Linked DNA regions of Homo sapiens. The protein of the gene in region 1 purifies or fractionates together with the protein of each later gene. This does not show direct contact. Each region holds a gene or a part of one and is shown on either strand. Other genes may lie near its edges.

Region 1 (5,358 bases):
ATCGATTAGCCATGTCTGCTCTGGGCGTGGGAGGTGGCGAAGGTGGCTGGTGGGGCATGTATGTCTTCCCTGCTCAACATCCCTGCTCACCTCACAGGAGTCTCATCTCCAGAAAGGGTTAGATGTAGCCAGAGGGACTCACTTTGGTGTTAGGCAGGGCACGGTTGTGGGCAAAAGGAGGTGGCTGGGGCTGCTTGGGAGAGGAGCCTGGTAGAGTCCTAAGGGGATCCAGGGGGACACAGGGCTCAAGCTGGGCGTGTGTGGGTGGGCTCAAGCTGGGTTTGTCTGGGGGGGCTGAGGGCCTAGGAGAGAGGGTTTGGGGTGTGCAGCAGCCAGAAGGAAGAAGCCGGGTAGTCTCGGGAGGGCAAGGAATGGAGAAGCATCAGGCTGGCTGGGGATGGGGAGGCCTGGAGCTGAGATCTGCCTTGAGAGGCAGGCACTGGCAGCTGCTGAGGCAGGGAAGGCACTGGATGGGCTCCCTACTTGGCTCCCAGCTTCTCCAGGGTGAGGAATGTACCAGAACTCTGTCTTCGGGGTTCTCCTGAGGGAGCCACATCCAGCACCCTGAGAGGCTCCAGGTAGCACCTTCAGGGAACTGGGGCCACGGTGACCCTTTTCCATCCACCAGGCTCCATTGTCATGGGCAGACCTTTCTGCCTTTCTTTGAACCTCCAGGCTGGAGTTGCTTGTATGAGGTTGAACGCACAGGGGACCATCTGTCCCTCCATTCCTGCCTTCACTAGTACAAGCCTCCAGTGGGCCCTTAGTGCCAGGGCCTTGCCCAGCCCTGAGGTATTAAAGATGACGCAGGTATTATCTGGATGCGGTGGCTCATACCTGTAATCCCAGCACTTCAGGAGGCTGAGGTGGGTGGATCACTTGAGGTCAGGAATTCGAGACCAGCCTGGCAGACATGGCAAAACCCTGTCTCTACCAAAAAATAGAAAAATTAGACTGTAGTCCCAGCTACTCAGAAGGCTGAGGCAGGAGAATCGCTTAAACCCGGGAGGCAGAGGTTGTAGTGAGCCAAGATCATGCCACTGCACTCCAGCCTGGGTGACAAGAGTCAGACTCTGTCAAAATCAAAATTTACAGGTAGAGTTCCAACTTCAAGGAACTTAGAGGCTGGGGCAGAGCCCTGAGGAAGCAGGGGGCCACACCAGGCCATGACAGGATAAACCCGAGGCAGTGGGCGCGCAGAGGGGACGGCCAACCCACCCTGAGGGTCAGAAAAGCCCCCCAGGCCCAGAAGGACCAGGAATTTATCAACGGTGAACACTGAGGAGGTCAGAGGAGGGTGCTGGAGCTGTGGATTAAGGGTGCGCAAAGGTGTGGAGGTGGGACCCGGCTTCAAAGCCAAGGGAAAGTCCGGGCGGGCTGTGAGGAGGACCTGGTGGAAGACCGTCCGCGGAAGCCGAGCGCGCCAGGCCGGGGGCTGCAGACCCGTGAAGGGCCGCTTAGCGCTAATGTTAGGCTCTGTGTGCCTCGCAATCTGTGGCCACCATGCAGCTCTGTCCTTAGGGCAAAAGCAGCCATAGAGAAGCATCACGGAGCTGGCAAGGCTGCGTTCCAACAACACGGTGTTAATGGAAGCTGAAGTGTGAATTTCATGTCATTTTCATGTGTCACAAAATATTTTTCATTTCATTTTTCTTTCTGCCATTCCAAAAAGTAAGAACCAGCTGGGCACGGTGGCTCATGTCTGTAATCCCAGCACTTTGGGAGGCCAAGGTGGGAAGATCCCTTGAGCCCAGGAGTTTGAGATCAGCCTGGGCAAAATAGTGAGACCCCTGTCTCTATTTTTTTGAAAAAGAAATTGTTTAAGATAAGGGTAAGAGCCATGCTTAGCTCACATCCCACACAGAGCCAGGCGTCGGGCCTGATCTGGCCCCCGGGCTGCAGTTGCCAACCCCTGGGCTGGCCCTTGCTGGGCTGTGAAGGCCACCGTAGGCCACATGCAGCCAAGAACAGGGAGGGTGTGGGTCAGATCCAGCCCTGGAAGAGCCCTTGGGAGGGAAGAGATGACAGAAGGGCTGTGAGTTCACAGTGAGGCCACTCACCAGGGACCGTGACCAGGCCCGGCTGCAGCAGCCGGATGGGCGGGCTCAGGAAGAGGAGGCCAAGGACGGCCAAGAGAGGGGTGGGAGCAGGTGAGGACTGAGTGACCGTCCCGTCCAACAGGTGGACAAGACTGAAGACAAGTCCCTGGAGGAGCGGGGCCGCATCCTCATCTCCCTCAAGTACAGCTCACAGAAGCAAGGCCTGCTGGTAGGCATCGTGCGGTGCGCCCACCTGGCCGCCATGGACGCCAACGGCTACTCGGACCCCTACGTGAAAACGTGAGTGTGCCGTGCGCGTGACCACCTGCCACGTCTTCACCTCCAAGGACGGGGGTCCGTGTGCCGGCTCCGTGGTCCCAGGTGGCAGGCACCCAGGGAGTGCCTGAGGTACAGGGGCGCTGTGTTCCCTGATGGGCTACCTTGGCAACTCCAGGGGTTAAGCATGGCCAGCCCATTTCACAGATGGGGAAACTGAGGGACAGAGAAGCTGAGTGGCTTCCCAGGGTCATGCAGGTATTAGTTATCACCTGATGCTATGTCCAGGCCTCTCTGTGACTGAGGGGCCCAGGAGGGGCCATGAGTTGCAGGAGGGGACAGAAGGCGGGGCCAGTGCCGGGGGTAGCCAGGAGGCTGGGGGAGGATGCAGAGGAACTCTGCCAGGCCTTTGCAACTGCCCACATTTGCCCAGCCCTATAATGGTGCTACAGATGCGGATAAGAGTCCACCCAGCTCTACCAACAGGGCTGATGGTGGGCCTGGGGAGAGACACTAACTCAGGGGGCCATGCCAGGTGGCCTGGGCCGCAGAGCTGTGGAGCTGTGAGCCTGGTCAGGAGAGGCTGTGTAGCTCTGAGAGCCAGGCAGGAGCTGGCGACCCTTTGGAGAGGGTGCTACAGGTGCCACAGTGACTACCGTCAGTGCTCGGGGCTCTTCAGAAACTAGGTAGGTATGAGTGTGAGCTCACAGGGAGACTCTGGAAAACTGAGACTTGGGGAGGAATTTAGTTCAGCAGAAAGGAGGGGCAGGTGCTTCAGGGAGGGGGAATGACAGAGGGATGGCCCTGACCTAGGGGACACCAAGGACCCAGGTGACTAAGGCCTCAGGGACATCTTGGCACCATGAAGAGGCCAGTACTCCTCGTGGCACAGCTCTAGGGGCACCATTCCCATGGCCATGATCATATTTCTGTCACTTTAAAAATTGTATGTGGCAGGTGCAGTGAGTTACACTTACATTCTGAACACTTTGGGAGGCCAAGGCAGGAGGATTGCTTGAGGCTAGGAGTTTGAGACCATCCTGGGCAACATAGTGAGACCTCCATCTCTATAAAAAAATTAAAAATTAGCCTGGTGTAGTGGCATGTCCCTGTAGTCCTAACTACTTGAGAGGATTGCTTGAACCCAGGAATTTGAGACCAGCCTTGGCAACATACTGAGACCTTGTCTCTACAGTTAAAAATAGTAATAAATTAGGCTGAGTGCAGTGGCTCGTGCTTGTAATCCCAGTACTTTGGGAGGCCGAGGCGCACGGATCACCTGAGGTCAGGAGTTTGAGACCAGCTTGGCCAATATGGGGAAACCCGTCTCTACTAAAAATAAAAAAATTAGCTGGGTGTGGTGGCGGGCGCCTGTAATCGCAGCTACTTGGGAGGCTGAGGCAGGAAAATCACTTCAACCTGGGAGGTGGAGATTGCAGTGAGCCGAGATCACACCACTGCACTCCAGCCAGGGTGACAGAGCGAGACACTCTCAAAATATAATAAACAAATAAAAATAATATGAGAATAATGGGATGGCCACTTTGGGAAGCAGCTGATAGTTCCTCAGAAAGTTAAACACAGAATCACCATTTGATCTGGCAATTCCACTCCTTGTTATATACCCAAGAGATAAGAAAAACATGTCCATCCTAAAACTTGTGCAGGAATGTTCATAGCAGCACTATCCACAACAGCCAAAAGTGGAAACACCCCAAGTGTCCATCCACTGATGAATGGATACACAAATGAAGTCTGTCCCTGCAGTGGAATATCAGCCCTAAGAAGGAGTGTAGCAGGTGCGTGGAATATCAGTCATAAGAAGGAGTGTAGCAGGTGCGTGGAATATCAGCCCTAAGAAGGAGTGTAGCAGGTGCGTGGAATATCAGCCCTAAGAAGGAGTGTAGCAGGTGCGTGGAATATCAGCCCTAAGAAGGAGTGTAGCAGGTGCGTGGAATATCAGCCCTAAGAAGGAGTGTAGCGGGTGCGTGGAATATCAGCCCTAAGAAGGAGTGTAGCGGGTGTGTGGAATATCAGCCCTAAGAAGGAGTGTAGCAGGTGCGTGGAATATCAGCCATAAGAAGGAGTGTAGCAGGTGCGTGGAATATCAGCCCTAAGAAGGAGTGTAGCAGGTGCATGCTACACTGTGGGAGGACCTTGGAAACAAGATGCTAAGCGAGAGAAGCCAGACACAGACGGCCACGTGTTGCAGGACTCTATTTCTATGACGTGTCCAGAATAGGTCAACCCACAGAGGCAGAGAGTAGATTTGTGGTTGCAGGAGCCAGGGGAAGCTTGAGGGGACATGGGCAGTGTGTAGAATGTGGTACTATGAAGTTAAAAATGAATAAATTTGAACTAGAGGAATTATTATAACACGGACAGCTGTCGAAAACACAACAAACGACACACACAGTAGGATACTGGTTTGCGTATATATATGTTTTTTCTTCTGATTTGTCATTGACTTGAATTTCACGCGTATATATCCTTGCAGGAGGATATGCAATCTGAAGCCAAAATGGTGTGATTTTTTTTTTTTTGAGACAGAGTCTTACTCTGTTGCCCAGGCTGGAGTGCAGTGGCGTGATCTCAGCTCACTGCAACGTCTGCCTCCCAGGTTCAAGCAGTTCTCATCCCTCAGCTTCCCAAGTAGCTGGGATTACAGGCATGCGCCACCACGCCAGGCTAATTTTTGTATTTTTAGTAGACGGGGTTTCACCATGTTGGCCAGGCTGGTCTTGAACTCCTGACCTCAAGTGATCCACCCACCCTGGCCTCCCAAAGGGCTGGGATTACAGGCGTGAGCCACTGTGCCCGGCCTATGGTGTGACATTTTTAAACCAGTTTCAATGCCCACCTGCCAGATGGACAGGAATTCCAGGGTCACCTGCTGGGTTGCCCAGAAAGCAGAGTCTTACCTGCTGTGACAGATGGTCTGGTCAACTTCCACAGGCAGGCGGGGGGCCATCTGGGCAGGGCCTGTCCACTGTACCACAAGCTCCTCCCTGCCACAGGTGGCTGCTGTGGGTGCTGCTGGACC
Region 2 (4,510 bases), on another chromosome or scaffold:
CTAATTAACATGAAGCTCGGGTACTAGGAAAGACACAAGAAGGATAAAAAGCAAGCTATGATTAATCTACCACTAAGTCACTTGCATCATAAATGGTCAATTCCTTAAAGCCATTTATGATGCTTGAGTTAAGAACAGGCCTTTTGTTGGTCATGGGCTCCTTGATGTCATTCAGAGTGACTGGCTGCTGTACATTCAAATCAGAGTCAGTACTGGCAGGTACTGCCTCCTCTTCTTGTTTTTCTAGCTGGTGAAATATCTCAGAGACAGTGGAGGGTTCTTCCTCATGTTTCCCTGAAGGACAGGCGGGGCTAGACAGGTTGGCTTTGGTATCCCAGTGTTCTCCAGATGCTGAGATTTCCTGCTGGTTTCCCCCTTCTCCAGACCCTGAAAGCCCCTGAGCACAGACCTCTGGACTGGCCACCAGCTGCTCAGAGGTCCCAGAGGGCTGAGTGTAGACTTTACCTGGCTGAGCACTGGCCCCAGATATTTGAGAAGACTTCAAAGCTTTGTTAGCCTCACTGGAGTTAAGGTCCTGATCACTGCTAGTAACTAAAACTGGAGGGGAGGATTCTGTAGGCATTTGTTCAGGGACCCCTTTGTTCTCTTTTGGCCATGGAAATGAAAGATCTACCTTTCCAAATCCTAGTTTTGAATCACTTGCTAATACACTCCCTTTCCCCTCACTACTTCCCTCAAATAGAGTTGACAACTTCTTAAAACTGGACATTAAACCAGTCTCTGCTGCTCTATTGCCAGAGGGGAGAGGTGAGGAAAAGAAAGAGCTCAGTGGTTTCCCATGGTTAGTAGCAGAGGATGGCAAACGAAGCTTTGGCCAAGTGGTCACATTTGGGATCTCAAAACGTGGTCTTGACTGCTCTGTTTCCTGGGGTACTACAGGTGGATCTTTCTGGGCATGAATTATCTCACAACTTTCTCTGGCAGCAAGCACAGGGTCCTCCAGCAGAGGATGAGAAAAGTGCCCTTCGGTTTCCAGAGTGGTGCTCTGGCTCACACTTGCATCATTGAACAGCATAGTATCAGTTTCTAGTGAACTGGCTGGATGCAGCTCCAGTAAGTCTTGGTTTGTGGAGGCAGTTTGAATAGCTGGCTCTGGCTCAAGAGGAAGAGGTGGCTGAATGGGAGGAGGAAGCTCTTCGGCAATGCAGGTAGGATCTGGATGCAACTGTGCTGGCAGCGCAAAGTTCTCTGCTTCTAACGATGCCTCCGTGTCTGTAGCTTGCAATATCCCCATGTCTCCTTCATCACTCAGAGACAATACTCCTTGCCCAGTATCATCACCCGAGAAAGAAGATGTATTAATTGTTTCAGAACGTTGAGGTTCCAGAATATTTTCAGGAGTATTATTGTCTTCCATTTTGGTTGTTAGTTTAGGATCATCTGTCAAGATATCTGATTCTGGCTTTGCACTAACCACAGTCATTCTACAGTCACTGAGAGTAGATTCTGAACTTAGTGCTGTAAAGGCAGCTTCTCTCCTTTCTGGAGGTACTGATCCTACAGCATCTCTGGAACAACCATTTTGAAGCCATGAAGTAGCTGGGAGAGATGATTCTTGTTTGTATGGCTCTGGCTTGGGACTTTTGAAAATTCCAAATAATTCACCTTTGAGGGGCTGAGATGATACATCAGAAGCAAGAGAGAAAAAGGAGTTTTTCTTTGGAGATTTAGGAGAGGAGAAAAGTCCAGAGAGTGTTTTGGGAGGTTCAATTAAGCTCCCAGAGAAAGATTTCACTTTGGTCACAAACCCTGAAAGCATGTCTACTGAAGAGCCTAATGCAAATTTGTCTTCCTCTTTATCTGCATCTTGGTTCTGAAGGTTCCCTGCACACCCTGGCTCTGGAGAGGAAGAGGCTGGCTCTAGGATCTGTGGTAAGACCTCATCGGGGGCCTTTTCTAATGGCAAGTTCACTGGGTCAGTAGTAAATTTCTCATTTTGGTGGCAGTTAGTACAAGTGTCTAAATCATTGAATTTTTCAATTAACTGTTTAGCATGTGAAAAAGAGTTGGACAGTGAGTCACTGGGGAAGGCTTTGTGGTTGAAAGCCTCTTCTTCATGGGGAGCTATCCCAAGGTTCTCTGGGCCAGTGAGGAATGTTTCAGCCTGTGCCTGAAATTCTGGTGAAGGAGGAATAATGTCTTTTTGCAATTCATTCATCTGGAAATCCACTGATGTCCCTGGTACAATATTGGAACTCAGTTTTTCCTGACAGTCCTTGTCTACACTGAGCTCATCTGCAAGGGAGGTAACCTCAATGGTGTTGTTAATGGAAATACAAGGTGCCATTTGCTGTTCATGAACTACTTCTTGGGCTATGCTATCTCTATGACCACTGGAACTTTCTCTGGTCATTGTGCTACCACTCTCTACAAAAACATTTGTCTTCTTACAGGGCTGGGAGGTCACTGGAACAACAGTTGAAATGCTTTGTTTTTCCCCAGAGGTCTCCTTTTTTTGATCCAAAAAGGACAAGCTGAAGAAACTAAAAGTAGAACTACTATGAGAGGCATCCTTCTTAATGCTTGAGCTAGCAGTGGAAAAAAATGAAGGAAGTGTGAATAGCCCTTCTGCCTGAGATTTGGCTCTTGGTAGAGTAGCAGAGGCTCTGTTCTCAGATTTTTCAGATCCAGTGAGAAAAGAAAATATACTCTTTTTGGTTGATAACTCTGGTTGAGATGAAGATGTTGCAGCCATAGAGAAACTCCAGTCTTTGTCAGAAAAATGATCTTGTTCATTTGAATTTCTCTTGCTCAGGGTATCAAAGGATATTTCATTACTTTTTGAAACTTCTGTCACTGTAGTCACACCACTAGTTTCTACTGAAGACTCCCTGGAAGACTCTTTGAGACTACTTGTTGAAAAAGATGAATTAGGTGACTGCTGGATTAGATGGTCTCTGAATGGTACCTCTTTTTCAGTCAAATCATTACCCTGGATCCCTCTAGTTGATTCCTCTAACCTACTGTCATCGATAGTAGTCTGTTTGTTCAGTCTTCTAACTCTAGCCTTCCCTTTAGAGGAAATTGGTGCAGCAGGAAAGTTCCCAGCACCCTGGCTAGCTAGCTCCATAGGAGTAGGACTTGACCTGACCTCATCCTTAATAGTCATTGAAGAAACAGACGTATTTTCAGTTGTCTGTATAGGAGATACATTGGCTTTAAAGAAATCCCCAAGGGTACCCCAAAAATTTGAAACACCAGAAGATTCTTTCTTTTCTTGAGGTGGTATCTTGACATTTGTATCACCAATCTTTTCTAAGTTTGGTGATCCTTCTTTATTCACCTGAGTCTTAAAAAGATTCAAAAATCCAGATGACTGTTTTTCATTTGCTGTCATACTAACTGACGATTCTTCTTGACTGAAGAGTTTCAATGAACTTTTAAATAATGTTTTATCAGACTCTTTGGATGACTGGCCCTGGGGAAGCTCATAATTCTCACGCTCATCCCCACTATGCTGAGGTGCAGGAGAAACTGAAATAGAGTCTGTTGTAATGATTTCATCATCTTTTACACCTGATTTAGCCTGAGGAGTTGTTTGGCTTACCTGGAAACCAGATTTTAACAAACTTTGCTTTTTCACATGGTTGTTTTTATTTAAAGAGAATTCTTGCCTTATATTTTTGATCAATTCTGGATGCTGAACATTGGATACTATCTGTCTTTCTGAATCCTTAAGAAGACTTTTTTCCACATTTGGGGAGTTACCCTCTAATTGCTTACTCATGATTAATGACTGAAAGCCATCATTTGTGAGCTCTGCTAAATCTGACTGCTGATTCACTTTCTGCATGGCCAAAGCCTCTAAGGATTCACTCTTATCAAACTTCAAAGTACTACCAACTGAGGCACCCAAAACAGAAAATACTGAAGCCACTTTGTTCACTAATGATGTCTCTTCTGCTTGTTGTGAGCCTTTAGTCATATTTTCAGGATGAACCAAAGTGGTAACTTCTTCAACAGAAGACTGAAGCCAATGGAAACTGGAAAGGTGAACTGATGAATCTTCAGCTAGAGGCTGGTTTTTATCTCTCTCTATAATTTGATCTCTGCTTGAGACATGATTACTAATAGTTTGGGGCTGATTTCTGAGATCTAATGTACATTCAGCGTCTTCAGAACCACACGGCCTTTCTTTGAAAGATCTAAAGTCTCCTTTAAACTTTTGACGATTATAGCCTGAAAAATCTAGTGGCTGATCGCTTTGGTCACAACTTGACTCTTTAAGTACTTGTGAAAAGGTTTCTAAATTTAGATACAATGGTTCCTCACTTCTTGGCAAAGCTAAAGATAAATCAAGAGGGTCATCAATTGGTTCCTCTTCAACATACCAAAATATTTCATCTTCCTTATCAAGTACTTTAAAACTACAGGCAGAAATAATGCTGTCATCCAACGTAATACTTGATAGACCATTTGTCTGTAAATCACAATCCAAATACTCTTGATAAGAATCAGGTATAAATAAATATGCATACTGCCCAGTAGA

Evidence for each region. The genes of interacting proteins can lie anywhere in the genome.
Region 2: the proteins of DOC2B (region 1) and UNC13B purify together in Homo sapiens (affinity purification with mass spectrometry; one large-scale study listed by BioGRID and IntAct). This does not show direct contact.

Annotation. Positions count from the first base shown.
Region 1 is NC_000017.11:153,201-158,558, reverse strand, and holds part of DOC2B (double C2-like domain-containing protein beta), read left to right. Parts: intron 1-2,181; coding exon 2,182-2,339; intron 2,340-5,358. UniProt on the Homo sapiens protein: Calcium sensor which positively regulates SNARE-dependent fusion of vesicles with membranes. Binds phospholipids in a calcium-dependent manner and may act at the priming stage of fusion by modifying membrane curvature to stimulate fusion.
Region 2 is NC_000009.12:35,304,043-35,308,552, reverse strand, and holds part of UNC13B (protein unc-13 homolog B), read right to left. Parts: coding exon 141-4,510; intron 1-140. UniProt on the Homo sapiens protein: Plays a role in vesicle maturation during exocytosis as a target of the diacylglycerol second messenger pathway.